Regions from separate parts of the Homo sapiens genome. Here regions 1, 3, 4, 5, 6 and 7 are each linked to region 2. Evidence: fine-mapped expression QTL. A gene starts in region 2. Each other region holds a variant in brackets. All regions are shown on one strand. Distances are between the middles of the regions. Region 1 overlaps CRYBG1 (crystallin beta-gamma domain containing 1). Region 2 holds the start of CRYBG1 (crystallin beta-gamma domain containing 1). Region 3 overlaps RTN4IP1 (reticulon 4 interacting protein 1). Region 4 holds the start of LOC101927405 (a long non-coding RNA gene). Region 5 overlaps CRYBG1 (crystallin beta-gamma domain containing 1). Region 6 overlaps CRYBG1 (crystallin beta-gamma domain containing 1). Region 7 overlaps RTN4IP1 (reticulon 4 interacting protein 1).

What was found. PIP is the estimated chance that this variant, and not a neighbour inherited with it, causes the effect.
Region 1: its variant is fine-mapped to the expression of CRYBG1 in whole blood (INTERVAL, PIP above 0.99).
Region 3: its variant is fine-mapped to the expression of CRYBG1 in whole blood (INTERVAL, PIP above 0.99).
Region 4: its variant is fine-mapped to the expression of CRYBG1 in lung (TOPMed, PIP 0.97).
Region 5: its variant is fine-mapped to the expression of CRYBG1 in blood mononuclear cells (TOPMed, PIP 0.94).
Region 6: its variant is fine-mapped to the expression of CRYBG1 in whole blood (TOPMed, PIP above 0.99).
Region 7: its variant is fine-mapped to the expression of CRYBG1 in tibial nerve (GTEx, PIP above 0.99).

What each region holds. Positions count from the first base shown.
Region 1 is chr6:106,531,681-106,535,776 of GRCh38, forward strand. All of the region lies in intron 8 of CRYBG1 (crystallin beta-gamma domain containing 1), which reads left to right. Among named protein-coding and RNA genes, the nearest start is that of RTN4IP1, 96 kb to the right of the region's middle. The variant G/A (reference allele first, on the strand shown) is at 2,083.
Region 2 is chr6:106,358,998-106,363,093 of GRCh38, forward strand. CRYBG1 (crystallin beta-gamma domain containing 1) reads left to right here and starts at 1,720. Exons shown (of 22, transcript NM_001371242.2): 1 at 1,720-2,084. The coding sequence starts at 1,912. RefSeq lists silencers at 1,521-1,730, 1,751-1,830 and an enhancer at 1,726-2,592.
Region 3 is chr6:106,613,221-106,617,220 of GRCh38, forward strand. The region is part of intron 4 of RTN4IP1 (reticulon 4 interacting protein 1); the gene reads right to left. Among named protein-coding and RNA genes, the nearest start is that of RTN4IP1, 14 kb to the right of the region's middle. RefSeq lists enhancers at 199-706, 1,214-1,720 and a silencer at 374-668. The variant A/C (reference allele first, on the strand shown) is at 1,732.
Region 4 is chr6:106,500,089-106,504,184 of GRCh38, forward strand. All of the region lies in intron 2 of CRYBG1 (crystallin beta-gamma domain containing 1), which reads left to right. LOC101927405 (a long non-coding RNA gene) reads right to left here and starts at 2,133. Exons shown (of 3, transcript XR_245566.4): 1 at 1,827-2,133; 2 at 828-926. The variant G/A (reference allele first, on the strand shown) is at 2,267.
Region 5 is chr6:106,551,341-106,555,436 of GRCh38, forward strand. CRYBG1 (crystallin beta-gamma domain containing 1) reads left to right here. Exons shown (of 22, transcript NM_001371242.2): 14 at 512-638; 15 at 844-876; 16 at 2,115-2,227. Among named protein-coding and RNA genes, the nearest start is that of RTN4IP1, 76 kb to the right of the region's middle. The variant G/T (reference allele first, on the strand shown) is at 2,531.
Region 6 is chr6:106,537,788-106,541,883 of GRCh38, forward strand. CRYBG1 (crystallin beta-gamma domain containing 1) reads left to right here. Exons shown (of 22, transcript NM_001371242.2): 9 at 1,616-1,742; 10 at 3,799-3,834. Among named protein-coding and RNA genes, the nearest start is that of RTN4IP1, 90 kb to the right of the region's middle. The variant T/C (reference allele first, on the strand shown) is at 2,478.
Region 7 is chr6:106,599,349-106,603,348 of GRCh38, forward strand. It overlaps RTN4IP1 (reticulon 4 interacting protein 1), which reads right to left. Exons shown (of 9, transcript NM_032730.5): 5 at 3,526-3,574. Among named protein-coding and RNA genes, the nearest start is that of RTN4IP1, 28 kb to the right of the region's middle. The variant G/A (reference allele first, on the strand shown) is at 2,324.

The sequences.
Region 1 (4,096 bases), 170 kb after region 2:
ATATAAGACACCTAGAAAAAAGTTCACAGAAGGTAAATGTACACTTAAACAAATAAAGTGAGCACCCAAGTAGACACCACTTGAGCCAAGAACTGGAACATTACCAGCACCCCAGAAGCCCGATGGTATTCTTTCCCTATGGCAGCCCGTCTCAGAAAACAACCTTCCTCTCCCAGAAGAGTGAGAAAATAACAAGGGAGGACTATAGTGATGGTTCGTCAATATACAAAGGTGTAGTTACTAGGGCAGAATTTGGGGTGTAGAGAACAATATTAATTTAAATATCTCCTCTTGATGTATAAAGTTATTTTCCAAGGATAGTATACATTTTACTGCTTTTTAAATTATTTTTAATTGACACATAATAATTGCACATATTTATGGGGTACAATGTGAGGTTTTGATACCTGTATACATTGCATAATGATCAAATCAGGGAAGTTAGCAAATCCATCACCTCAAACACGTATTATTTCTTTGTGGTAAGATCATTCAGAATCCTCTCTTCTAGCTATTTTGAAATATAAAATATATTATTGTTAATCATAGTTACCCTACTGTGGAATAGAACACCAGAACTTATTCTATTATATATTTTTACCACATTTTCTTTATTCATTCATCTGTTGATGGACACTCAGGCTGATTCTGTATCTTGGCTATTACAAATAGCACTGCAAGAAACATGCAAGTGCGGGTATCCTTTGACATACTTGATTTCATTTCCTTTGGATATATACTCAGTAGTGAGATTGCAAGATCACACAGGAGTTCTATTTTTAATTTTTTGAGGAGCCTCTATACTGTTTTCCATAATGGCTGTGCTAATTTATATTCCCACCAATAGTGTGGAAGAGTTCCCTTTGCTCCACATCCTCACCAATACTTGTTATATTGTGTCTTTTTGATAATAGCCTTTCTAACTGGAGTGAGGTGGTATCTCATTGTGGTTTTGATTTGCATTTCCCTGATCTTGAGTGATGTTGAACATTTTTTCATATACCTCTTGGCCATTTGTATATCTTCTTTAAATAAATGTACTGTTTTTTGTGTACATTTTGAGTTATATCATTTGGTACCCCGTAGTCCTTGAAAGGCTCTGAAATTTTTAAAGGTGGTTAGTTTAGAAGTAGAAATTAGGAAAGGCTTTTATTTCCTCTGCATACCCTGTCTAAATATGACAAGAAATTGGGACTTTAACAAATATAAACCCAAAAGAGTGTCTATGAGATGTATTAAATATATTCAGTAAATCTGTTAATCAAGCATCTACCATGTGCCAGGTGCTTTTCTAGTCACTGGGAATACAGCAGTGAAGACATAAAATGATGTCCCCATTCTCCTGGAGCTGTCAGTCTAGCAGGAATAAACAACACAAATACATATATAATGTGTCAGATGGCAAAGGCTACAAGAAACATAAATTACAGAGGGGCAGGCATGTTGCTATTTTAGATAGGGTAGCTAGTAAAGGACTCTGGTGACATTTTAAGGAGGGACCGGCAGGAAGTGAGGGAGTCTGCCCTGGAGCTAGCTGAGGGAAGAGGGGCAGGGAGCCTGTCCCAGAGAGGAAGCACACCATTTGCAAAAGCCCTTCTGGGCATGCTTGGGCAATAGCTAAGAGGCCAAGGCGGCTGAAGCTGAGTGAAGTAGGAGGATAGGGATAAGACAGGGCTCAGGTCACATCTGGCCTTTCACGCCTTGGGGAGGAGGATTTAGATTTACTCTACGTGGCATGGAGAATCATTGGCGAATTTTTATCTAACTTGTGTTATTAATAGAAGGATCAGCCTGTCTGTTCGTATAGAAAATAGTCTGTAAAGAGGCAAAGGTGGAAGCCAAGAAACCACGTAGGATGCACTTGCAATCATACAGCCAAGAAGAGATGGTGGCTTAGACGTGCGATGGTGGTGGTGGGAAATGGTCAGATCTTGGATGCATTTTGAAGGTAGAACTAACAGCATTTCTGACAGATTGTGTGTGGGGTATGAGGGGCCAAGACATGCCCAGGGTTTGGAACCCCAACATTTATTGAGACGAAAAAGACTTGGAGGAGCAGGATAGGAGAGAGAGTGAGATTCA[G/A]GAGCTCAGTTTTGGACAGGTTAAGGCTGAGATGCCAACTGCAAATTCAAGTAAGTGGGCAAGAAGGTGACTATGTGAGGCTGGAGTTCAGGGGAGAGGCTGGAGGCATAAATTTAGGAGTCACTGGCAAAGAGAATGTATTTAAACCAGGCACAGGACACAGTCCCAAAGGGGAGTGGGTGTAGTTAAGGGAAGAGAAGGCACTTTTGTATTTAGAGACTGGGAAGAAAAGTGGGAATCTAAGCAAAAGAAAATGCCTTCATCTCTTGCTGCCTTTAATTTTTTTACATGAAAGAAGTCTATACACTTTTTTTTAAAGAATTGGTGTCAGGTTGAGAAACACCACTTTCCTTAGAAAAGAATGAAAAAGGCATCTGTTATCATATTTTAATCTCAGTGTCTGGAAGGTGCCATGACTCAGGCTTGGCTATGTTGAAGCACATTAATCTACCTTAAATGATATTTCTTACCTTTGCAGTAAGTTTAGCTTTGCCTCCTGGGTGGTAGTTACCAGCCTGTCACAGCTTACAATTTATGACAGGTTTGTGTCATGGTGAGCATCTTCTTTTCTGGCTGTTCATTTCTGTTGAACACTGCCTCAGATGTTAATTCAAAGTTTGGGCTCGTTGAACTTGGTTGGTGAGCTTAGACACCAGGTCATTAGTGCTTTTATAGATCTCAAAGGAAAGTCTCAAGGGGTTGAGAAGATGTCACTGATAGTAAGTACTGAAGCTCATTTTGCTTCTGTTGATGCACTGGTTCCCCTGAACTGGGATAAGAAGTCTTTGCTGTAGAGGGAACTCCTTAAGAATCCATTAGGTGATTTATTCCAGGGCCCATTCACTCTAGATTAAGCTCTTCTACTCATACACAAAATAAGGGTGTTACTTGTCTGGTCAAATTCTTGTTTGAGGAAATGAGTGATTTCTAACTAAACTTGCCTTTCAGATTCTGTTGAGAGTAATTTGTTTTTAAATCTTTCTTTTAAGCAGCTGGCTAATCCTGGCACCCATCCTCCCAGAGGTGAAAGCATATTGGGTTTTTTGGGGGCGGGGTGTGTGTAGGGGTGGAAGTGGGGGGTGGTATATTTATGACGAACAAAAGCAAAGAAGTTTAGAACTTCAAAGGGAGTATAAAGATGATCTGGCCCAACACCATCATTTGACTGAGGAAGACAAGCTTTGGTCACTTTCTCCAGACTAGGGTTAGCTGTTAGCAGAATGTGTACTAGAATGCAGGTGTTCTAAAGTCAAGGGACTTCTTTTTTAATTGACAAACATTATTTGATCATTTGTACTGTGTAATATTTGACATATACAGAATAATATATGTATATATGTGAACTATGAAGCCCAATAATAAAACAATCCCCCGTGGACCCACCATCCAACTTACAACCTAGACCATTACCAACATTGCTGCCCACCGTGGTTACACATGTAACCACACTCCTAAGATTACTCATATTGATGGGTACATCTCTATGTATTTTTTTCATTGCTGTGTAATAGTCACTGTATATTTCATTGTGGAATATACCATATCAGAGCCCAATTTTTTATTATAAAAGTTTTCAAACATACAGAAAAGTAGGAAGAATAGTTCAGTGAACACCAATGTACCATTCACTTTGACCCAATAATTGTTATCATTTTACCATATTTGTGTTATTTTTCTGAGCACTTCAATGTACATTGGAGATATCATGACCCTTCATTCCACATAGGATTCAGCCTGACTCTCTTTCTAATGGTATTCCCCTGCATAAGTATCATTATTACACTTGAGAAAATTCACAAAGTGTCCATGATAATATCTGTTCAATAGTCCATCACCAAATTTTCCCAATTGCTTCAGGAATGTCTCTTATAGATTTGCATTTTCAAATCAGGATCCAATCAAGGTTCACATAAATGCGTTTGATTGTTCTGTCTCTTTTAAGTCTCTTTTTAAAGATCTCTAAAATACCCCATCTTTGTTTCCCAAGCCACTAACTTTTTTTTTTTTTTTTTTT
Region 2 (4,096 bases):
GAGTGAGACCCTGTCTCAAACAAAACAAGACAAAAAACTGCTACAATATAAGCAACAATATAGATGATTTTCACCGACTAATATTGAGCAAAGCAAACCAGAAACAGAGTACATATTGTGATTTTCCACTAAAATGAAATTCCAGAAAAGGTCAAATTAATCTCCAGCAAAAGAGGATGAAATAATGGTTAACTTTTACAGGTGGGAGGGGTAATGTACTGGAAGAGGACAGTAGGGAGATTTTTAAAGTTTTGAAAGTATTCTATATTTTTATAATCATATATATTTACCTATTATTATTATTTGAGACATAGTCTCATCCTGTTGCTCAGGCTGGAGTGCAGTGGCGCCATCTCGGCTCACTGCAACCTCTGCCTCCTGGGTTCAAGCGATTCTCATGTCTCGGCCTCCCGAGTACCTGGGATTACAGGCGCACCTCCACCACCACGCCCAGCTAATTTTTTTTTTGTATTTTTAGTAGAGAAGGGGTTTCACCATGTTGGCCAGGCTGGTCTCAAACTCCTGACTTCAAGTGATCTGCCTGCCTCGGCTTCCCAAAGTGCTGGGATTACAGGCGTGAGCCACCGCTCCTGGCCTATAATCATACATTTAAAAGCCACATACGGAAGAATTTTCTAGGACAATGTCAACTCTCCATTAAAAAACTTTTCACACCCCAACCACATAAATATGTAAAAATTTGAGTTTTACCCTTATGATTTGTGCATTTTACTGTCTATAAATTACATCTTGATAAAAATGTAAATAAAAACAAATAAAAATGAATGTTCCTTGAATGAGTGAATAAACGAATGAATGAGTTGTGTTTTCAAAGAGGAAAATAAAGACATTACCGTGAAAGAGGATCTTGTACTGCATTGAATTTTTAAGTAGTGCTTAGTTCTTGCACTTTCTTTGCTCTAATGATGCCCAAAATAATTGTTCGTTTACTTACTTTGCTTAAGTATTAATTTCCTTTGCTATTTAGCCACGACTGTGAAGTTAAGACAAGAAAGTCATCAACAGTAATGCAGATGATGTAAATACCTTGTGGGACTGGCATTTAATTTACTGCGAGGGATCTATTAAGCTCTTGGGGAATTGGGGAATATGCCTAATTCCCTTCTGGCGTTTTTAATTTTTTTAATCCTTTTGTGTTTTATGAGATGTGAGTACAAATTAATTATTCAGACTCTTGAGAGAGGAGACGAGTTGGCGGAGTTGCCACCCGTGTTCACGAACAGGAACAGAAGCCACCAGCACATGACATTGCCCAAGCCACCCAGAGATCAGAGTGGAAGAGTCCTAATTGCTGGGCGGCCCAGCCCCGGGATGTGCCTCTCCCATCCTTCTCCAGGCGGGGCTCGTGGCTAAGCAGCGACTCACCCTGCCAGCCTGTCACAGGCCAAGAGCGGCCAACAACTCCGCAGGCGACAATGGCCGCTGCACCCCAGGCGCTGTGGAAGCCCGACCCGGCTCTGGGTCCCATCTTAGAGCCTGGGATGCAGTGTCGGGAGTCGCGGTGCCCAGAGCATCCAGTAGGTGTCGCTGTCCCACGGCCGCCGCGCGCCCCCGGGGTGGGGAGCCGGGGCGTGTCTGCCTCACCTGGGGCTCCCGGCGCGAGCGCCTCACCTGGGCTAGCGCCCCTTGCCGCCCGCGCCGCGCGGGGGCGCTCTTCCGCGGCTGGGTCCCCGCCTCCGCCCCAACAGCTCGGGCTGCAGTGCTGCTCGCGCTGCGCTGGGTGCTGGTTCTGCAACCCGCGGCCGTCCCCCCGCATCCGCGACGAGGGGGCGGGGTCCCACGGCGCGCTGAGAAAGGCGGGCGAGCTGGCGCTCAGGTGTGTTCTTCCATAGGGCCCGGGCGGCAGAGAGGACCGCGTCCCGGCAGTCGGAGCGGGAGGAGGACAAGACGATGCCGCTGTCCCCGCCAGCCCAGGGCGACCCCGGGGAGCCCAGCCCGTGCAGGCCCCCTAAGAAGCACACCACCTTCCACCTCTGGCGCTCCAAAAAGAAGCAGCAGCCGGCGCCGCCTGACTGTGGGGTGTTCGTTCCGCACCCGCTCCCGGCGCCTGCCGGAGAGGCCAGGTGAGCTCCTCGCCCGAGCCCTCCAGTCCCACCTCCTCCTCCTCCTCCTTCTCCTGCTGCGCTAGCCCTTGGACTCCTGACCCCACTTGGAGGAGGGGAAAGCCCCGGGGTCTGTTTCAGTCCGCAGGAGGGTACCCGGGTCCGGAGGGGAGCGATCGTAGCCGCTGGGGTTGACGAGGTTCCTCGCGGCTTTTGGTTCAGACCAAGCACCGGCGAGAGGAACTTGTGCCCACGCATGTGGCCTTTAGTATGACTGCAAAGTTTTCATGCAGGAGCCTCCCGCATCAGCCTGCTAACCAGAGCGGCGGGGAGTGAGGGTTGTTACCGTCCTAAATGATGGCGGGAACTCTGCTTTGGGGTTAGGCACTGCTTTTGAGCTAGTGTCTTTATTGTAAAGCTCTTTATTGTGAATATCTGTAAGATCTGTGCTCTTACAGATGTTATACCCCCATTCTCCTCGCAACATACGAAGGGAGGAGGAAGTGGCAGGAATGGTTACCCCCATTTCATGGGTGGAGGAACTGAGACCAAAGGATAAATGGCTTCTCCCCATTGGAGCCAGTGGCAGAGCTAGAGAGCACCTAGTTATCAAAACTGTAGTTACCATTGTGCTTTTTGATTTTTATCATGGTTTTGAAGTGGTTTTATTCTATATGTATAATTATTCAACTATAGCATCAGAGTTTATGCATTCGTTGAATAATAATCAATTTGAAGTAACAGCGTATTTACATGGCTCAGAGGTGTGAAATATTTATAGTGATGGACAATTGACAATGTCCAGTAAATCCTTCCAAATGTGTTTTTAAAATACACCCTATGAGGGCCAGAATAAAATTGTGCAAAATTTGCATTTTAGACATGGTTTTCCTTTTATTTCTTTCTTTCTTTTTTTTTTTTTTTTTCTGAGACGGAGTCTTGCTCTGTCACCCAGGCTGGAGTGCACTGGCCCAATCCCGGCTCACTGCAAGCTCCACCTCCCGGGTTCACGCCATTCTCCTGCCTCAGCCCCCGAGTAGCTGGGACCACAGGCGCCCGCCACCACGCCCGGCTAATTTTTTGTATTTTTAGTAGAAACGGGGTTTCACCGTGTTAGACAGGATGGTCTCGATCTCCTGACCTCATGATCCGCCCGCCTCGGCCTCCCAAAGTGCTGGGATTACAGGCATGAGCCACCGCGCCCGGCCTCTCCTTTTATTTGTAAAAAAAGTCAATTTTACGATCTATTTTCATTCACTTATTGTATTGAGTACCTTAGCTAAGTGCCATGTACTGCGATATAAAAAACAATGAGAGACAGGAATAATTGTGTCATCAAAGAATTGTTAGTCTCTTGTGGATACCAAAAAATGCAATGATAGATGCCAGCACACAGGAGGGGATCAGGGAGGCTTCCTGGAGGAGGATAGGTGAAGTGGCTTAGGCAGAAACAGGGAGGAGCAGCGAGTTCCAGGCAGGGGCTGCACTGTGCACATCACCAGCACTTAGAAGAGCGTGGCACTTCCTGAGAAGCGCAAGTGGTTGCAGCGGGGAGGTCTAGGTGTGAGTGGGTAAGGGTAGGAAACCTAAGAAAGAAGTCATTTTATTTTTCTCTCATATTTTATCATCCACATTGGTAATCAGTTGTAGTAGAAATATATTACCTATTCAAACGTTTACTGTGCCTAATTATAGATTATACTTTCTAACAAAATACAGTATTTAATGTACCCAACATTGAAGTTCTTTTCTATTACCTCAGTAAATATTTTAAACATTTCCATCGTGGTTTTCCTTTTAAGATCTAGTCTTATCATTTACTGTCTATCAAAACATAATAATACACAGCTATAGGTAATTTATTCAAATGTAAATACATTTTAGTATAAAATTTAAAATAGGAGGCCGGGCGCGGTGGCTCACGCCTGTAATCCCAGCACTTTGGGAGGCCGAGACGGGCGGATCACGAGGTCAGGAGATCGAGACCATCCTGGCTAACACGGTGAAACCCCGTCTCTACTAAAAATACAAAA
Region 3 (4,000 bases), 250 kb after region 2:
GGTTCGTAGTCACTTCTGTGTAAAGTTAAGTTATCCCTAGCTGTCCTAGTTTAAGAAATGCCTTCCAGGAATTTCTTCCTACCTCTCATTAAGTCAACTCACCTAAGCCACATGACATTTTCTTAAAGCTGTGTATCACTGCACCCAGCACAGGGTCATGTGAGTAGTGAAGGAGAAAGAAAGTTAAACAAGGTTTGAAATGTACAAAGCCAGAAGCTAGTCTGTGGAAAATTCCTCCAATTAAAAAAATGTAAGAATTTACAAGACAACACTATATGGAAGAGGTTAACAACAAACTAATCAGGATTGTTCATTAAAATACAACAGTATTTTAGGCTTATTCACTACACAAGAAAACGTGAAATGCCTTGAAATCTGTAAACCAAAAATAAAATTCTAAGGCCCCAGCCATCTGAATGGACTCCTCTTCTTGGCCAAGGACATTCCAGAGTTCCCTGAAAATCTAGTTCTGCTCATGATGAGAGAGGAGGTTGCAGGCCTCATTATACCCCTGCAGCATTAACATCAACACAGAACTTGAATCTGATAGGAAACATTTACAGTCTATTCTCTCTAAAGCTGGCTACTTGGAGGCTTCATCTGCATGACAAAACCTAGGTCTCTACAACCCCTTATCTTAACCCAGACATTCCATTTCACTTATAATAAATCTTTCAACCAACTGCCAATCGGAAAATTTTTAAATCTACCTATCACTTGGAAGCCCACCCCTCTTCAAGAGGTCTCACCCTTCAAGATCAGACCAATGTAAATCTTATGTGTATTGATGGATGTATTGTCTTCCAAAAATATATAAAAGCAAGTTGCACCCTGACCACCTTGGGTGCATGTCATCCGGAGGCTGTGTCACAGGCGTGTCCTTAACCTTGCCAAAATAAACTTTCTAAATTGACTGAGACCTGTCTCAGATATTTTGGGTTCACAAATCTTATAGCTGGCATATAAAAGGAACTTGGAAGACATTGTTCCAAATTTGGCAACAATCTTATATTTTACATGACACGAACAATAATGAGTAGTGCTGAGGAAGGTGAAAGAGCAGGGTTTATGAACAATGTCAGGTTTTGACTTAGGGTAAACCACAATTAACTGACATTAGGATTACAGAGGAAGAGTTGGGGTGGTAGTTGGTAAGTGTTGTTTTGCTCAAGTTGAGTTTGAGATATAAAGAGAACATCTGACTGGAACTCAGTAAGAGGACAGAGTTAGAAATACAGATCTGTAAGTTACCAAACTATAAGTAGAAGCTGGGAGTAGATGAGATAACCCTGGGAAACAAAAAGGAAGAATAGAGTGGAATACTGGGAAAACAGCACATTTAAAGGGCTGGAGGAAGAAGTGGGGGCTTCTAAAAATGACAAGAAATGGTCAACAACAAAAAAAGAAAACTTAAAAGTCTTAATGTCCCTGAAACCATACGAAAAGTAAGTATTTAGGAAGTGTTCAACAATGCCAGCTACTTCAGAGAGATCAAATTAAAATAAGAACTGAAAAATGTCTTTGGGCTTGGCAACTTAAGTCACTTAAGTTAGCTACGACCCCAGTGAGGGCAGATGCAATTGAAAGGCAAGGCTAGAAGCTAGATTACAGTCCATTGAAGAGTAAATGACTTGTAACCTCACGAGATAGTTAACCTAGTCACTTAGAAAGCTATTGTATAAAACACAAATTTCCAGGAGTGAGGTTTCTGCTATTCTTTCAAGTGCCCAC[A/C]GCCCCCACCCCCCCACCCAGGACTCCCTGGAAAATAGACCTGAAGCAAAGGAAGATTCATTTCCATCACACTGACCAAGCCAGAGCCTCCACTCTCACTCTCCTTGCCTCCTCAACCCCATACTTTGTTTATGCAAGAAAACAGCTGGGGTTTCTTTCTACTTCCCCTTACCCCCCTAACAATACAACCCAGTCAGGTGCAAATGAAAACTTAAAGTCCAAAAGGGTAATGGGCTTGGGGAGTGGGAAGAAACAGGTGGTGGTGGGGTGAAGAAAAGGCCTTAGAATGCATTTGAAAGAAGAAGGCTGTCATTTTAATTTTAATATAAGCATATCGGTAGGGAATAAACCCAATGTTTTTAACTCTGGGCCTAATTCTATAATTCTATATCAGAATTAATCAGACACCTAATTTACACTTACATGACAAAATTTTACTGCCATAAAACCTAATATCAAAAAAAAAGTATTCCTAAATTCACTTCATTGAGTTGCAAGTATACACAATTTAAAAGTGAAATTTATTTTGTGGAGGAGGAATAGTTCAATTCCTAACTCTGTTGCCCAGGATGGAGTGCAGTGGCATGATCTCAGCTCACTGTAACCTCCGCCTCCCGTGTTCAAGCAATCCTCCTGCCTCAGCCTCCCGAGTAGCTGGGACTACAGGCACGCAACACTACACCTAACACCTTTTAATACTTCTGTCAAACAGAATGAAGTACAACTTTCCCGGCAAGACATGAATTTCAGGCAGAGCATGAAATATTCAAGTGCACCAATGACACTACCAATAAATAAAACCATCAAATCTTAACATATTCAAAAAATATCCGGTTGTAACAACTTTTTAAAAAAATTTCTACTTATCTTGAGAGCCCTAAGTTATCTATGTGTTCCTACTGAACAAATCATGAAGAAACTATAGATGGGCTGATAAAAAGAAAATAATTTTCACTTGACATTTTCTTTTTCTTTTTTTTTGTTTTGAGATGGAGTCTTGCTCTGTCACCAGGCTGGAGTACCGTTGCGCAATCTCAGCTCACTACAACCTCCAACTCTGTGGTTCAAATGATCCTCCTGCCTCAGGCTCCCGAGTAGCTTGAACTACATGTGTGTGCCAACACGTCCAGCTAATTTTTGTATTTTTAGTAGCGACGGGGTTTCACCATGTTGGCCAGGATAGTCTCGATCTCCTGACCTCTTGATCCACCCACCTCGGCCTCCCAAAGTGCTGGGATTACAGGCATGAGCCGCCGCGCCTGGCCTCACTTGACATTTTCTAATGATATCAATGTGTGGACAAAATGACAGTATTATATGACATCAAGAATAAACTATTTCCTTGGTTCACTGATACTCAGCTGCTGCAGAAAAGTAACTACAGAACAAAGGGGGAAAAAGGTAAACATCATTGAACCCTTAGAAAGATTTGTCCTAATTTCAAATAAGCTGTTTGTTATAAAGAAATCCTATAAAATCTTCCAAGGTGCTGATAGGTGTTTTTGTCATTGTTAATTTTGTTTTTTTTTAATTAACTGATTAGAAAAAAAAGATGATTCATCTTTGATAACAAATACTGATGTGCTTTGTGCAGACTAAGGCATGCCTTAATGCCAATAGCTAATAGCTAACAGAAAAAGAACAGTTATTGCTTAGCATATTGAAGCCAAAATATGCTCCATCAATCACAATGAATAGTCAAATGGAAAATCCACTTTGGACACTGGAACTTCTGAGTTTAGGTACAATAAAATCTCATTATAGAATTTCTTCATTAAAAGTATTTTTACAGTATTTTAAGGTGCTCACATCTCTCATGTGACTCTCACAAATAAGCAGTTAAAAGAGGTAGGCCATTATTATAACCCATGTGTGGTAATTTCAGTAAACCGAAATTTCTGAGAGCAGCAAGTACCAAGTGCTATGGTCTGAATGTTTGTAATGTTTGTGTCCCACCAAAATTCGTATGTTGAAATCCTAACCCCCAGGGTGATGGTATTAGGAGGTGGGGTGATTAGGTCATGCAAGCGGAACCCTCATGAATGGGATTTGTGCTCTTATAAGAGAGAGAGACCCCAGAGATATCCTCACCCCTTCCAGAATATGAGGACAAGCGAGAAAGCACTGTTAAAGAACCAGAAAGTTGGTCCTCACCAGACACAAAACCTGATGTCACCTTGATCTCAGGCTTCCCAGCCTCCACAACTGTGAGAAATAAATTTCTCTTGTTTTTAAGCTACCAGTTTATGGTATTTTGTGATAATAGCCT
Region 4 (4,096 bases), 140 kb after region 2:
TTCCATATCTTGGCTATTGTGAATAATGCTGCAATGAACACAGGGGGCCAGATATCTCTTCAACATACTGATTTCATTTCTTTTGGGTATGTACCCAGAAGCAGGATTGCTGGCAGTTCTATTTTTGTTTTATTGAGGAACCTCCACACTATTTTCCATAATGGCTATACTAATTTATATTCCCACCAACAGTGTATAAGAATTCCCATTCTCCACATCCTCATCAACACTTATCTTTCACCTTTTTGATCACAGCCATTCTAACAGGTGTGAAGTGATAGTTCATTATAATTTTCATTTTCATTTCCCTGATGAACAGTGATGTTGAGCACTAAAAAAAAAAACAAAAAAAAAAACCTCTTGGCTATTTGCATGTCTTCTTTTATGAAATGCCAGTTCAGATCCTTTTTCCATTTTTTAAATCAGATTGTTTTTGCTGTTGAGATGTCTGAATTCCTTGTATATTTTGGATATTAATCCCTTATCCAATGTATGATTTGCACATATTTTCTCCCAATCTATAGATTTTCTCTTTACTCTTTTGTTTCCCTTCCTGTGCAGAAGCTTTTTAGTTTGATACAATCCCATTTGTCTACTTTGTGCTTTTATTGCCTGTGCTTTTGGGTCAAATATGTATTTATTTCATGGTTTTCTTTTCCATTTCCCTTCTCTTCCCCAGAGATTGTATTGGGCATTTTACAAACATTTCAGTTTATCCTTAAAATAATCCAGAGGAGGAATATTTTAGAAACTAGATTTTGGGGAGTCATTTGAGAAAGAGAATAAGGCTAGAGACAGGCCTTTGTTTCTATCTGAAAGTTGCTTACTCAGGTTCGGTGATAGGTGATTGCCCCAAACCACTGTCCATTCCATGATACACTGTTGTCTGACTCTTGATTGTTGATAGGCTGGAGGATAAAGGATTTCTGGAAAATATGTACATTTGGTAAATATTTAAGTGCCTATTGGTACCAAGCATTGATGAAGAGGTAGGGACACAGGTGAACAAAATAACGTTCTTGTTCCTCACGAAGCTTATGTTCTGTAAGCAGACACAGCAATAAAGAAATATACAAATATATATGCAATATGGTTCAGGTAATGTTAAGTGCTATGAAGAAAAATAAAGGAGAATAGATCATAGAAAGTGAGGGTGCTGTTTTACATAGGGTGATTCAAAAGTGTTCACCCTGCATAGTTTGCATATCCTCCATACCTTATGAGCTGCAAAAAAGAGATTAAAAAAAGAGTAGGCTTATATTGTTTTCTTTATTCTAGCCATGACACATTAAAGATGAGTGCTCATGAGCAATGATATGCCAAGTTCTGCAGACAAATTAGCTCTGTTAGAAACTACATCTGATAAAGCTGTTATTTTCATCTCCTTCTCACCAGTTGAGAACCATAAATTCATTGTGTTACTTACTTAGTTTCTATAATTTTAACTTGAGCAAAACATCAGCAAAATATCGCACTGTTAATAAAGCCAGCCATCACTGTCATAGGCTACTTTGTGCTTTTCAAAAGATGTTCACATGTATCATTTCACATGAATTTCTCAGTACCCTGTATGATAGATGTGCAACTTTTGAGAGAATAAGTGATTTGATCCCATTTAGTAGTATTCCTGAGTTCTGATCATAGAAGTGTGAAATCTACTTCTTAATTTGCAAAGTGTTGGTAGAAAGTCAACAATTCTCACTAGAAACTACAGGAAACTAAGACATTTCTGGGCAGTGTATATTAATTGGAAAGATAAAGATTGTTCCATTTTCTAGAAATAAATCCACTATTAAATCCACACTTACAAACATGGCTAAACTGACCTGAAGTTATGAGGTCTCAAGGTCACTAGAAGTCTCAGAGCCAGCCTAGCTAGAGTCCGTGCTGTGTTGGAGAGGCTTGTCTGTTCCTCTTCTCCAGCTCTCATTTCTCTTCTGGGTCCCAGTCAGCCCCAGGGCCTCTGACTTGGCTGTAGCTGTGCCTGGTCGGGGCAGGCAGGCTGTGTTAGTTGTCTCCAAGGGCCGCTTCACCCTCTTTCCCCCAACTTAATCACCATCTCCTGCATCATATCATTTATACATGGATGACCCAACTGAAGTTTAGTCCTTGGTTCTTTAGTACTTAGATTCTGAGACTCACCAGTGGCTTTTAAGTGCTTTAAAGTAACCATTCTTGATCTTTGACATGAATTATTGCACAAGTCATTCTTTTTAAATTGCATAAGGAATGTACTTTCTGGGTTACAAGTTAATAAAAAGGAACT[G/A]ATTTGATGACTTCACAAGGAACACATTTCCATTTTCCAGTTTGGCTAAATTTTAGTTAGGAACTAACTTGTCAGTAATTTGATTATGTTAATCAGGATATGCATATAATCCAGGAGGTAGAATAAGAAATACTTTTGCTATAAATTTCAAACTACTCTATCTCCTTTTAATTACACATTATGCATAAGAAAAAAAATCGCCGAATTAGGATAATACATCTCAACTGTAAAGCAAATTAATTCAGCCGGATAGCTTTGTGAGAAAAAGAGAATGTTGGGGAGACTATTCAAAGTACAGGTAGAGAAACCTTCTGGGGTACTTGTTAGTCATAATTAGGCACACAGTAGAATTAGTCAGGATCCCAGCACAGGAAACATATAGCACACTCAAGTTGTGTAATTAAGGAAAGTAGTGAAGGACTATTTACAAAGTGTGGGCGAGGTTTTAAGGAAGCCAAGAAGGGCTAAAAAAAACCTTAGGCTTCAGGGTTCTTCTTTCACATGGCCTCTTCCAAGGCCCTCTCCTTAAAATCTATAAGCCAGAATTTTGTGTTCTTTGTCTTAAAGAAAACTCTCAAAATAACATATGCCTCATGCCCCACAAAACTTCATTCTACCTCAAGCAATAGCTAATGAAGCCTTCCCATCTGGCACCTGGTGAGGTCCTTTCCCATCTTAGGCCTGAAGGAGCAAGAGGGGAAAGCGGCTCGGGAATATGGGGAGAGAGAACAGCGGCGGAAGTGGGCTGCCTGGCAGAAGCCCTGGTCACACCCAGCCACACCCAACCCAGAGCCCAACTAAGAGATGGAGAGATTAGGGGGGAAATCAGGGCCTCCCACTGGCTGAACCTAACCAAATCCTAAGGACAAGAAAGTCAGTTTCTACCTTCCATCATAACTGGGAGCCTGGGGCGCAGACAAGGCTGAGGGAGGGTGAGCCTACGGAAAGATCCAGCACACTCTATCTACAATTACCTGGATTCTAAAGACAGAGCTCCATCACAAGAGAGGGCTCATTGGCTGTTTATGCTATCACATCCATTGCTGTACTGCATGGCCTAGGAGAAAGCATGTAAGCCATGCCTTCATAAAAGTGACACATTAATCATTCTAGTAAAGTCTTATTTTTCTAATGATACATTATAATTTCTAACAAGAAAAAATACTGAGCTACCTTTTAGAAAGCCTGACTTATGTCTTAGAAAAAATAATTCGATTCTACAGGCCACAGGTTGCCTCTTTAAGGTGCGGAGAAAATTCTGGCACAACGTAGACACTCAATAATTATCAGTGGAATGAATGAGTAAATGATCCTACAATTCAGACATTCCATGATCTTATCTTTTATCTTCCTTTCTGATTGATCATGTGTCGATGGCTTGAAACAATTAGGTTTCACTTTGTCTCTGTCAAAGTATAAATGACTTAAAGACAATACCAACCCGAAACTGGGAGTCTGCTTTTTAAAAGAAGCTTTTTGGGAGAATGAAATTATAATTATAAATTATAAATTAACTTTTATAATTGATGGCTTTTGTATTCAGTGACACCTCTTTTTCAGGACACAGGTTAATCTGGAAGTTAAAAAGTCTGTCACTATTCTTTCACCCAATAGTATACCTTTGATTGTACCCAACAGGATGATATTATTGTTTGGCCTGAAGTGACAGCATTAGAAAAAAAAAAAAAAAAAAACCACAACCATTGAGGTGTAAGTAGAGAGGTATGTGTTACATTATGTTGAAATGACAGAAAAAAGATTTTTTTAAAAAAAGAAAAATAGCATCAGAGATGAGGTGGGCACTAGAAGTGGTGACAAATATTAGAAGCA
Region 5 (4,096 bases), 190 kb after region 2:
ATTTCATTCTTTTTTATGGCTGTATAGTATTCCATGGTTTATATGTACCACATTTTCTCTATCCAATCCACCATTGATCAATGAACACCTAGGTTGATTCCACATCTTGATATTGTGAATAGTGTGGCAGTAAACAAGACACGTGCAAGTATCTTTTTGGTAGAATAATTCGTTTTCCCCTGGGTATATCCCAGTAATGGGATTGCTGGGTTGAATACTAGTTCTATCTTTAGTTCTTTGAGAAATCTTCAAACTGCTTTCCACAGCAGCTAAACTAATTTACATTCCCACCAGCAGTGTATAAATGTTCCCTCTTCTCTGCTGGCTTACCATTCTGATTTGTCCTATAGACAAACCCATCTGCTTCTAAAGGTTAATGGAGAATCAGAAAAATTAAAATTTCAATTGGCAAAACAAATGAAAGTTTCTGTATGATACATAGATATCCAAATATGTGATCGTTTTATATGTAAAATATGAACTCCAACAAGTGATTGCTTTTGTTTCTTAGATGGGTAGCCTATGAAAATCCTGACTTCACAGGAGAACAGTATATACTGGATAAAGGATTTTATACCAGTTTTGAGGACTGGGGAGGCAAAAATTGTAAGATCTCTTCTGTTCAACCTATATGTTTGGTAAGGAGTTATATTTTTGTATGAGAATATTTAACTGAATTCTGGATTTCCTTAATGTGTGTTCCTGGTTCATGTAATAGTAATTGCTATGGAAAATATTCTGAGTTTATTTTTAGCAGTAATTGCTAATAATCTAGAAGAAAAAAACTTTTTCAATGTGTTTGTTCTATTCATTTCCTTTTCTCCTTCCTTTAAAAATTTTTAGGATTCTTTCACTGGCCCAAGGAGACGAAATCAGGTAACTTTAAAAATATTCTTTTATATTAATATATAAAGGGCCTTCCATTGAAAAGCTGAACTTATGTTTCAAATGTCAGACATTTGGGGCCGGGTGTGGTGGCTCACGCCTGTAATCCCAGCACTTTGGGAGGTCAAGGCAGGTGGATCACTTGAGCTCAGGAGTTCAAGACCAGCCTGACCAACATGGGGAAACCCCGTCTTTACTAAAAAGACAAAAATTAGCTGGGTGTGGTGGCTTGTGTCTATAAGCTCAGCTACTCAGGAAGCTGAGGCAGGAGAATTGCTTGAACCCCAAGAGGCAGATGTTGGAGTGAGCCGAGATCGCACCACTGCACTCCAGCCTGAGTGACAGAGACTCTGTCTCAAAAAAAAAAAAAAAAAAAAAAAAAAAAAAATCAGACATTTGGGACATTTTGTTAGTTTTACTCATTTTTATGCCTGAAAGCATAATTGTATTTAAAAAATAAGATTTAAGTTTACTTTAATGGTTAATTGACAGTACTGACCCATGTCTAAATAATTCTTATAAAATGCTTATTGTATAAAGCTGAATTTTATATCATTACATTGACTCAGTTTATATTAATACATTGAGATTAATATTTCAAACAATAGCATCTAGTTATTGTGATGGTAAAATGAATTTTCATATTTGCTGTGTCGACACTAGACATTTTTTATGGTCTCACTCAAGCTTTCTGAATGCTGATTCTTAACATCAACTGGGGTGTACATTTGTTATTTCGGCCTTTTAATGGAAGTGTTCACAGAGCCATAATTATAGAGGAACAAACACCACTATAGCCTCCTTTATTGGCATTCACAGGATTCCGATAAGTCAGCAAGTGTCTTCCATTGAGAAGGAAGGAAACTACACTATGTCTTTCCAAAATACTGTTTGTCGTTAATGTCAGAACTGATGAACAATGATTTCTGACCACAATAAAGCTTTAAAATACCTCACAGCTTCACAACAGGGTGTTCTATAGAAAGTTACCTTTGTTGTTGCATTTTACTTTGATGTCTCTGAATTAAATAAATAGTCACGAATGGCGCAGCTAACATGTTTCTAATTGATCATGAATGTAGACATGGAAAATTAAAGGATTTCTAAAATTCGTACCAGTTTACTGTAACAAAAGTCAGCAGGTCATGTTTAGGTCATCATTTCAAAGGCTAAATTAGTTAATGTGTTTAGGAAAATAATTTTATGTGTTTCTGTTTACTTTTTCAAAGATTCACTTGTTTTCAGAACCACAGTTTCAAGGTCACAGTCAAAGTTTTGAAGAAACAACAAGTCAAATTGATGATTCATTTTCTACCAAGTCTTGCAGAGTTTCAGGAGGCAGGTAAGTGAAACAAAGGCCTGGCAGAGCTGAATCACTGGAGTAAAACAGAATTCACACATCAGCAAGTATATAGTGATGCCTGTTAGGTGCTTGGCACTATGCGAAACCACCATCTTAGTCCAATGGCGTGCTTCGTGATATCTGAGTACCAGACGCCAGAGGACACGGGCTTCAGGTTGGTTGGAGAAGCTGAAGATCATCTCATTGTGTAATGGAATTCAGAGCAGGTTCTTTACTCTGTATGTCTTCCCATCATCTAGAAAGGGAGAGTTGGGCTCTAGTTAATCCAAGGTACCTCCCAAG[G/T]TGGATTGTTCAAAGGACAGGATCGGCACTCTGCATTAACAGGAAGGTAGAAAGTACACGCTGGAGTGGAGCTGGTGGACACGCGAATCAGGGAGCATACCAGTCCGGCTTGCTGGGAGGGCTTTGTACTGGGAGGAGAAGCAAAGCTGAGCACACTGAGTTTAGATGGCTTCCACAGGAAACACAAGACCCAGGGCAAAGGCAATGGGCTCAATTGTTTCATGCTGAAACAATCCTTGTACAAAAGCTTCATGGAGAGGGGAGAGCCCAAGGTCAGGGAAACTCGGTCAGGAAAGCCTTGGAGCAATCTGTGCAAGAGGTGTTGAGGATTTAAGTCTCTTAATAATAGTAGTAATAGTGCCTTTAATCACGTGGTTCTTTATGGTTGAAATAATGCTATCCTGTCCTTTAGTATTGCACAGCAAAAAAGCACTGACTTTGCATTCAAATACACAGATGGAGGCCGGGTGCAGTGGCTCCTGCCTGTAATCCCAACACTTAGGGAAGCCAAGGCAGGCAGATCACTTGAGGTCAGGAGATCGAGACCAGCCTGGCCATCATGGCAAAACCCTGTCTTTACTAAAAATACAAAAATTAGCCGGGCATGGTGACACACCTGTAATCCCAGCTACTTGGGAGGCTGAGGCAGGAGAATTGCGTGAACCCAGGAGGCAGAGGTTGCAGTAAGTTGAGATCATAGCACTGCACTCTAGCCTGGGCAACAGAGCAAGACTGTCTCAGGAAAAAACAAAAAAGGCAAATACATAGTTGGATAGTAAAGCTTCCTAGTTTGTTGGACATACTGCTACCACATCCCCACTCCTCGTTATCCCCTGCCTGCTTCATTTATTACCTCCAGTCCTGTGCATGTTTAAAATTACCTGTCTCAGCTCACTAGAGTATTAACTTCAGGAGAGCAGGGACTTTGGTTCTCTGCTGTATCCCCAGCAATAGAAAAGTACCTGACACATAATCCTCAAAAGGCATTTGTTGGGTTAAAAACAACAACAACAGGGCCAGGCACGGTGACTCACACCTGTAATCCCAGCACTTTGGGAGGCCGAGGTGGGCAGATCACCAGGTCAGGATTTCGAGACCAGTCTGGCCAATATGGTGAAACCCCGTCTCTACTAAAAATACAAAAATTAGCCAGGTGTGGTGGCATGCACCTGTAGTCCCAGCTACTCAGGAGGATGAGGCAGAAGAATTGCTTGAACCCAGGAGGCAGAGGTTGCAGTGAGCCGAGATCATGCCACTGCACTCCAGCCTGTGTGACAGAGCGAGATTCTGTCCCCCCGCCACCAAAAGAAAAGAAAAAAAGGAAAAAAAAAAAAAAGGCCCACAAACTTCTAGGGGAGCATGGCAAATCACCATTTTATGAATAATGTTGATACCAGAGAGGCTAAGTGACTTGTCTAAGTCAATATAGTATTTTGACTCCTGGCCCAGTGCAGAGGTATTAGAAATGAGGATAGAGGAGTGTGCGAGAAATTTTGGAAGGAAATCAATAGACCAAATCAATAGGCCTTGGTGATTAACTAGTCACAAAGCTTGAAGAAGGATTAT
Region 6 (4,096 bases), 180 kb after region 2:
GTTCTGACCTCCTACCCATATCCCACACCTGGCCTCCCAACATTCTTTCATGTGTGTGTTGTCAAATCATCAGTAGGAGCCTGGTTGTAAATCTCTGTATAATTAGAGAGTCTAGAGAAGTTACCAGTTTATCCAGCGGAATCTTCACAAAAACCACCGCCAAAAATGTGCCTTGGGCCAAAATTGGGAAGAAGAAAAAAGCAAAGAGGGAGGGGTCAGACCCGTTTTGTTGGTAAAAGATTTCATTTACAGCCACTCTCTTCTTGGCATGGTGTTCTGGGGAACACAACATGGTGGAGTACCACGGCTAAAACATTTTAGCAAAACTAACCGAATTGATGAGTGTAAGTGATCACTAAGAAGTCTATGTTTGTTTATGAAGCAGGTACATTAACCCCTCTCTTATAGAAAAGTCACTTCTTCAGCATCCTCACCTTCTCAGAACCCTTCCCAGGAACGAAGATGTTTACAAGAAGACCTTGTAAAGTTTAGAGACAGGGCTAGTAGGCATGGTTTTCTGGTTTCCTGATTTCTGGCACATTAGAGGAGGGTGGGGCTGCTGGTTCCCCAACTGAAGCAGAAGTGACAGCTGACAAGCTGATAGAAGGGTGTGGTATTGAAAAGCCATAACAATCAGAACCAAGAACTCAAAAAGCTTTGTGGCCTGGGAACAAGCAGCCCCACAGAACTTCAGAGCCCCTGAGGACACCACTGTGCATTAAATAATGCTCACAGTGATGATCCTGAGTAACTGTGAAAAGAGTAAACTGTGTTCAATGCACTTCCTGCAATGAGAAAAATTGCCATCACAAAAATGATTAGGGCTGGGCATGGTGGCTCACACCTGTAATCCCAGCACCTTTGGGAGGCCAAGGCGGGCGGATCACCTGAGGCCAGGAGTTTGAGACCAGCCTGGCCAATATGGTGAGACCCCCTCTACTAAAAAAAAAATGCAAAACTTAGTCGGATGTGGTGGTGTGTGCCTGTACTCCCAGCTACTTGGAAGGCTGAGGCAGTAGAATCACTTGAACCAGGAGGCAGAGGTTGCAGTGAGCTGAGAGCAAGCCACTGTACTCCAGCCTGGGTGACAGAACAAGACTCCGTCAAAAAAAAAAAAAATTGATTAGGAACCTGGTTCTGGAATCGGCTTGAATCATTCCAGCCTTTCATACTTATAGCTGTGTGGCCTTGGGCAACTTACTTAACTTTATCTATAAAATGGGGACAATAGCTTCTCTTCCTCATAGCATGGTTGTGAGGATTAGATGAAGTTCTCAGTGGCATTCCTTGTAAGCTCTAGGGAGATGTTAGCTGTTACTAATGTTTGGCACCATGACAAATGATTAGATGGAACTTTGGAGCAATTAATAATACAAATTAAAATAAGGGGACAAAGCCAGCCAAGGAGAAAAGTAAAAGATCAAGAATAGGGGCATATAATGGCTTTATTTTTCCTTGAGTCTAGTGTGATTCTAACACCTGAGTCCAACCATTCATTATGTAGGTCCGTATCCTCTCCTGTTCTTTTCCTCTCATCCTGGGTACCAGACAGAAGGAAAAACTGAAACAAATGATGAGTCGGCTCCCTTTCTTTCCTTCCATGGTGGCTATTTAGGTGGCTGATTTATGAAGAACCTGGATTTCAGGGTGTTCCTTTCATCCTGGAACCTGGTGAATACCCTGACTTGTCCTTCTGGGATACAGAAGAAGCGTACATTGGATCCATGCGGCCTCTGAAAATGGTAAAAATGAAATCCAAATGTCCTTGTGGTGATTCTTTGTCAGCTTGACGTGGTAATTCACAGGGTGTGACTTTGAAGCAATAAAGCTGACTTTTAAGAAACAAATTTGTAGTAGATTGGACCTATTGCTCAATAGAAATCATGGAAAGAATAACTTGCTAGATGCTATAGATTAAAAAAAAAAAAAAAAAGGCAGGTAAGACTATGTCCTTTGTCTTTAAGGCATTCTCAGCCCTGCAGAGCTGCAGATGGGTGCGCAAAGCTTCAGCGCAGTGTAGGTTTAACAAGTGAGGAAAGTGAAGAATTAAACATTGGTGGAAAAACAGGACAAAGATACATACAATTCCAAGTTGTGGGTGATGTGACAGAAAAGGGATAATTAGGAAAGCTTCATGCTAAATTAAATTCAGTCTTAAAAAATTAGCAGGATGATTTTTTAAATGGAGCTGTCGGTGAATGCACTGTGTGAGCTAGGGTGCAGCCTGAGAGAGAGCAGGGCACGCTGAGGACCGGCTCGGCTGCCGTGACACGAGTGGGTGGTGTCTTGGGGGTCTCTGGGGCTGGACCAGATGAGTGTTGTCCTCCTGAGTATCTGCTGTGGAAGCTTTGTGCTTCCTCTCCCTTGTCCCAGTGTCTTGCTTTGTTCTTTGTTTCTTCCGCTAGACTGTCAGCTTTGGGAGGAAGCAGGCCGCATCTGTCTTGTCCCCAGTGTTGAGCGCAGTGTGTGCTGCAGCA[T/C]GGAAGTTGTTCCCTAAATACCCACAGTGAGATGAGGCTCCCATTACAAACATGTTTTTGAAGCTGCACTTCGCAGTTGTCTTCTGAGACAGTTTGAGACAAATTAGAAAGTTAGGAAGACAATTTTTTTAATGTTAATTTTACCCATCCTTCCAAAGTATTTGGTTTAATTATCTGTATGTTTGCTGGTCTTAATGCAAATGATTTGGGCTTTTGTTTCTAAAATTAAACTCACTTTCAAAGAACAAAGTTTTGTTAGTTTTGTGAATGTATGAAAGAATTCATCCAGGTTTTAGGAGCAGTTTGTAATGATGATGAAAAGTCTCCAAAGTCTATGGTGTTCAAACAGGATTACTTTTGAAAAGGTCATGTGCTTAGTTGTATAATCTCTGGTTTGCTGATAATATCAGCCACATTCCTTTTTCCTTTTTTTTTTTGCTTGTTTTTTCATAAAAGTTAAGGAAACCAACACATTCTTTTATAATTATAGTTCATTTGGTGCCTTTGAGCATCCTTGGTGGTACTTTTTTTTAAAAAGCTATTAAAGATATATTAATTTTAAAAAAATCCAACTTTCCCATTGCTGATTTAAACTCTTGAACTATTTAATATTTTTGTGCAATATCTTTTTAATGTAATACCATTTCTCTGATTTTAGTGAGTTTTTTTGTTTTTAAAAAGCTTTCTATTTTATAACAACCCCTCATAGACTCATCCTTTGGGATGTTTTAAATTTTATTTAACAGTTTATCTAATTATTCCATGAGTCCCCCAGATCTTATTATGTGAACTTCAACACATAATAGTTTCGTAAGCCCTGGTTGCAAAATCAAATACCTTCAGGGGCCAGGCAGCAAATACAAATGGCTGAGAGTTAAACCGAAGGGAATGGTAGAGACGGCAACCCCGGGCCTGTGCCCAGCTGAAGGATGAACTGAGGGCAGGATCGTTAAATGCAGAAGCCGAAGACAGTGGCCTGGGAGAATCTGGGTCCAGAGATGTCAGCTCTTGGAACTGCTTTTTCAAGAGAAGTATGGATTTTTATGATAAATTTTCCAAGTTAAAAAAACTTGCTAGGTCAAAAAACACTCCTACAACGCAGATCAGCTTATAGACTGCTTGTGCGAGGCTCCGTTCTAGCCTGCCTTCCTCGTGTCTTCATCTGTATTGTTGGTAATTTTAGAACTATCTCACGTAAGTTAAAACAAACCAGAACATAGTCACACTGAAATTCAATGTTTTACTGTAAACTGCTATGGCTAATATAAAATGGTAATGTATCAGTGAAAAACTATTTTTCTTACTATGTTGTTTTTTTCAGGGTGGCCGTAAAGTTGAATTCCCTACAGATCCAAAGGTAAAAATATATATGTATTTTTGTATGTATGTATATGTAATTATTTAAACATATACACATATATATGTACTTAATGTTATTCCCACTCCATCTCTATGAAGATATTGCTTATGTGACTTCTCATATTAAACCTCTGTCACACATAAATGCAGCCAAAGGAAGTTGCCAACTTACACTTGCCATCCTTCAGGGTGGAAGATGATGCTAATGGCACTGGTTATCACTAAGAGTACATTTAGCCATGGCTCAGAAGGGTCATTGT
Region 7 (4,000 bases), 240 kb after region 2:
AAGAATTAGAATACCACCTGTGTCCCTAAGCCTCCCAATTAAAACCTCCTCAACTCCCTTAAAAAGTAACTACTAACTGGACCTTTAGTGTAACCCTTTTTGCTTTTTTTTTTTTTTAAGAAGTTTTACTAAGTAGACACCACCCTTAAACACCACTGCTTAGTTTCACTTGTTCTTGAATGTCATTAAATGGAACGATATAGGATGTACTTTTGCATCTGATTTCTTTTACTCAACACTCGGTTGTGGTATTCATCCACTTCACTGTGTGCAATTATAGTTTTTTCATGACTGCATAATATTCCAATGTAAGAATATACCACAATTTACTTACTCATTTTACTGTTGATGGACATTTGGGTTTTTCTAGTTGGGGAATTTTAACAGGAATAGCCCTGCTCTGAAATTCTGGTACATATCTTTTGGTAAACATACTTGTATATCTATCTATAGGTTATAATCCTAAAATAGGAATTCTTGTGCTGTCCTTTTTTTTTTTTTTAGAAATTTTACAATTTATATTGACATTTAGTAGATGCCAAATGGTTTTCTTAAGTGGCTGTATCAATTTATACTCTAACCAACTGTGTATGATATTTCTCTTTTCTTTTTGCCTCTCTCCCTCTTTTCCTTTCTTCTATTTATTTATGTATTCAACTCATATTTACTGAGCCTCTGGATTGGATTCTGATTATCAAATGATGAGTTAAAAGAAGTTAAAGTGTGCATCCCAGGAATCCTCGCCTCCTTCACCTAGTTCAGTCAGCAGACAGACAGGAAGCCTCCAGCACCATCTGGGTTCTCAAAAAGTCTAAGCTGGGTCTGGGGTGGTCTATAACACCCAAACCTCCCTCCTGGAAAGTAATGTGGCAGAGCCTCTGAGGCTACTCGCTGGCCCCTACTGGGGAAAAGAATCTCTCCCCTCATCCTGAGAGAGTCTTAATCAAGCTCCCTCTTCTAGGAGCCAGTCAGTTACACATCTGACCACAACAGGAGCAGTCACTGGGCCCCATCATGTTTCTGGAGGCTTGGGGAACTTTTGGTTTGTTTTGTTTTATTTGAGGTAAAATTCATATATATCACCATTTTCACAATTTTAAAGTATTTAAAGTATACAGTAGTCTCTAGTACACTCACAATGTTGTGCAACCATCACCACTAATTCCAGAATATTTTAAGTGCCCCAAGAATAAGCCTCACACTCATTACGTAGTCATTCCCCACTCCCTTCTCCATCTACCCCCAGCCCCTGACAACCACTAATCTGCTTTCTGTCTCTGTGGATTTGCCTATTCTAAACATACGATATAAATGGAATCATACAATATGTAGGACCTTTTGTTTCTGGATTTTTCTCACTTAGCATGTTTTGAAGATTCATCCATGCTGTATCATCATCAATATTTTATTCCTTTTTATGGCTGATATATAATATAGATATATAATATTCCATTATATGTCTATACCACATTTTGTTTATCCATTCATCAACTGATAGTTATTTCCACTTTTTTTCACTATTATGAATAATACTGCTATGAATATTCATGAATAAGATTAGGCTTAAATATATGTTTTCATTTCTCTTGGGTATATACCTAAGAATGGAATTGCTGGGTCATATGGTAATTCTATGTTTAACATTTTGAGGACCCAAGAAACTCTCCCACAATGTCTGCACCATTTTAACTTCCCACCAGCAATGTATGAGTGTTCTAATTTATTTACATCTTTGCTAACATTTTTTATTTTCTGTGTTTGCTTTTTATTGTAAGACACAGTATCTCACTGTGGTTTGGATTTGCATTTCTCTAATAAATAAAGATATTGACCATCCTTACATGGACTTACTGGCCACTTGTATATATTCTTCGGAGAAATGTCAATTCAAGTTCTTTGCTAATTAAATACTGTGCTGTCTTTTTGTTGTTGAGTTATAAGAGTTCTTTATATATTCTGGATACTAGACTCTTACCAGAAAATGATATGGAAATATTTTCTTCCATTCTGTGGGTTGTCTTTTCATTTTCTTGATAGTGCCCTTTGACATACAAAAGTTTTTTTAATTTTGATGAATTTTTTTCTTTGGTTGCTTGTGCTTTGGGTGTCATATCTAAAAATCTGTTGCCAAATCTACAATCATGAAGATTTTGTCTTATGTTTCCTTCCAAGACTCTTTTTTTCCCTTTCCCTGCCTACTCTTCTAAGAGTTTTACAGTTTTAGCTCTTATGTTTAGATCTTTGATCCATTTTGAGTTTTTTGTTTTTGTTTTTGTTTTTTGAGACAGAGTTGCACTCATCACCCAGGCTGGAGTGCAGTGGC[G/A]TGATCTAGGCTTACTGAAACCTCCGCCTTCCAGGTTCAAGCAATTCTCCTGCCTCAGCCTCCTGAGTAACTGGAATTACAGACACATGCCACCATGTCCAACTAATTTTTGTATTTTTAGTAGAGACAGGGTTTCACCATGTTGGCCAGGCTGTTCTTGAACTCCCGACCTCAAGTGATCCACCCACCTTTGCCTCCCAAAGTGTAGGGATAATAGGTGTGAACCACCATGCCTGACCTTGAGGGTTGTTTTTCTTTTTTTAATATGATGTGAGGTAGGGGCTCAACTTCATTCTTTTGCATGTGGATATCTAGTTGTTCCAGCAGTATTTGTTGAAGGAACTATTATTTTCTCCATTTAATGGTCTTGCCATTCTTGTCAGGATCAATTGACCACAGAGGTATGGGTTTATTTCTGGATGCTCAATTCTATTCCATTGATCTATAAGTTCACCCTTATGTTTTGATTACTGTAGCTCTGTAGTAAGTTTGAAATCAGCAAGTGTGAGTCCTCCAACTTTATTCTTTTTTAAGATTGTTTGGCTATTTGGGGTCCCCTGTGATTCCACATGCATTTTGGGGTCAACTTGTCCATTTATGAAAAGCAAAAAAAAAGCAGTTGCATTTTGATAGGGATTGTACTGAATCTATAAATCACTTCAGGGGAGTATTGCCATCTTAACGGTATTTTGGCTACTGTATTTCTATATAAATTTTAGAATCAGCTTACCAATTTCTACATTTTGCAGGCTTTTTAGCCTGCAAAAATTCTGCTTGGAAACTAGTATTGGTTTTTGACATTGGCTGTTTCCTATTAAATTGCTAACTTCCATCTACCTGCACTGCCCATGGTCTTCCTTCTTAAAAGCTTTCCTACGTCTGTTATCAAGGACATCCACACACCCACTCATATTAAACTACTAGAAAGCTTAATGCTTCCTTCTACATTAGAATATTTTCCTTACAGTGAGCTATGATTGTGCCACTGCACTCCAGCCTGGGTGACACAGCAAGACTCCATCTCTAAAAAATAATTTTTTCTAATAAAAAAAGAATATTTTCCTCTTACAGAACAAGCTGAAATTACAGTACATTTACCAGACCTACCTTTCTCTCAGCTTTTAAGGAGAAATAATGTATCTTAATTTATAAATTCATGCAAACAAAATCCTCCTATTCACAAGATTAAAAAATGGTTTTACCTGTATAGCAAAAGTACCAACTCCGCCTGAAGCGCCTAAGATTAGAACACTGAAATGCAAAGGAAACCACAATTAACGAGAATCTAAAGCAGATATAACTGGATAAACGTTTTCAACAAATAACTGGTTGATGATAAGATGATAAATAATTCTAAAAGAAAATAAAGTTATTCAGCTTCCCAAGATATATTACACAAGGATTTTTATTTTAGGTTCACCAAGAAACTGCAGTTGCTTAAAATAAAGACATTCTATGAGCTCTGTACCAAGAATATCAAATACCGAAAATACCAATAATTTGTTGGTTTAAGATAGCTCAGATGGTCCTTTGTAATATCTGCCTTATAATTTTTCTAGGCTAAAATTGTTAGAGCTTCCTCTATGAGAGGGAGATTTGGGGCCCTTTTTAATTTGTTATGCTTAGCTGTTCTCTAAGAAAAATCACATTCCTGACTACATTCTCACCAAAGCGAAA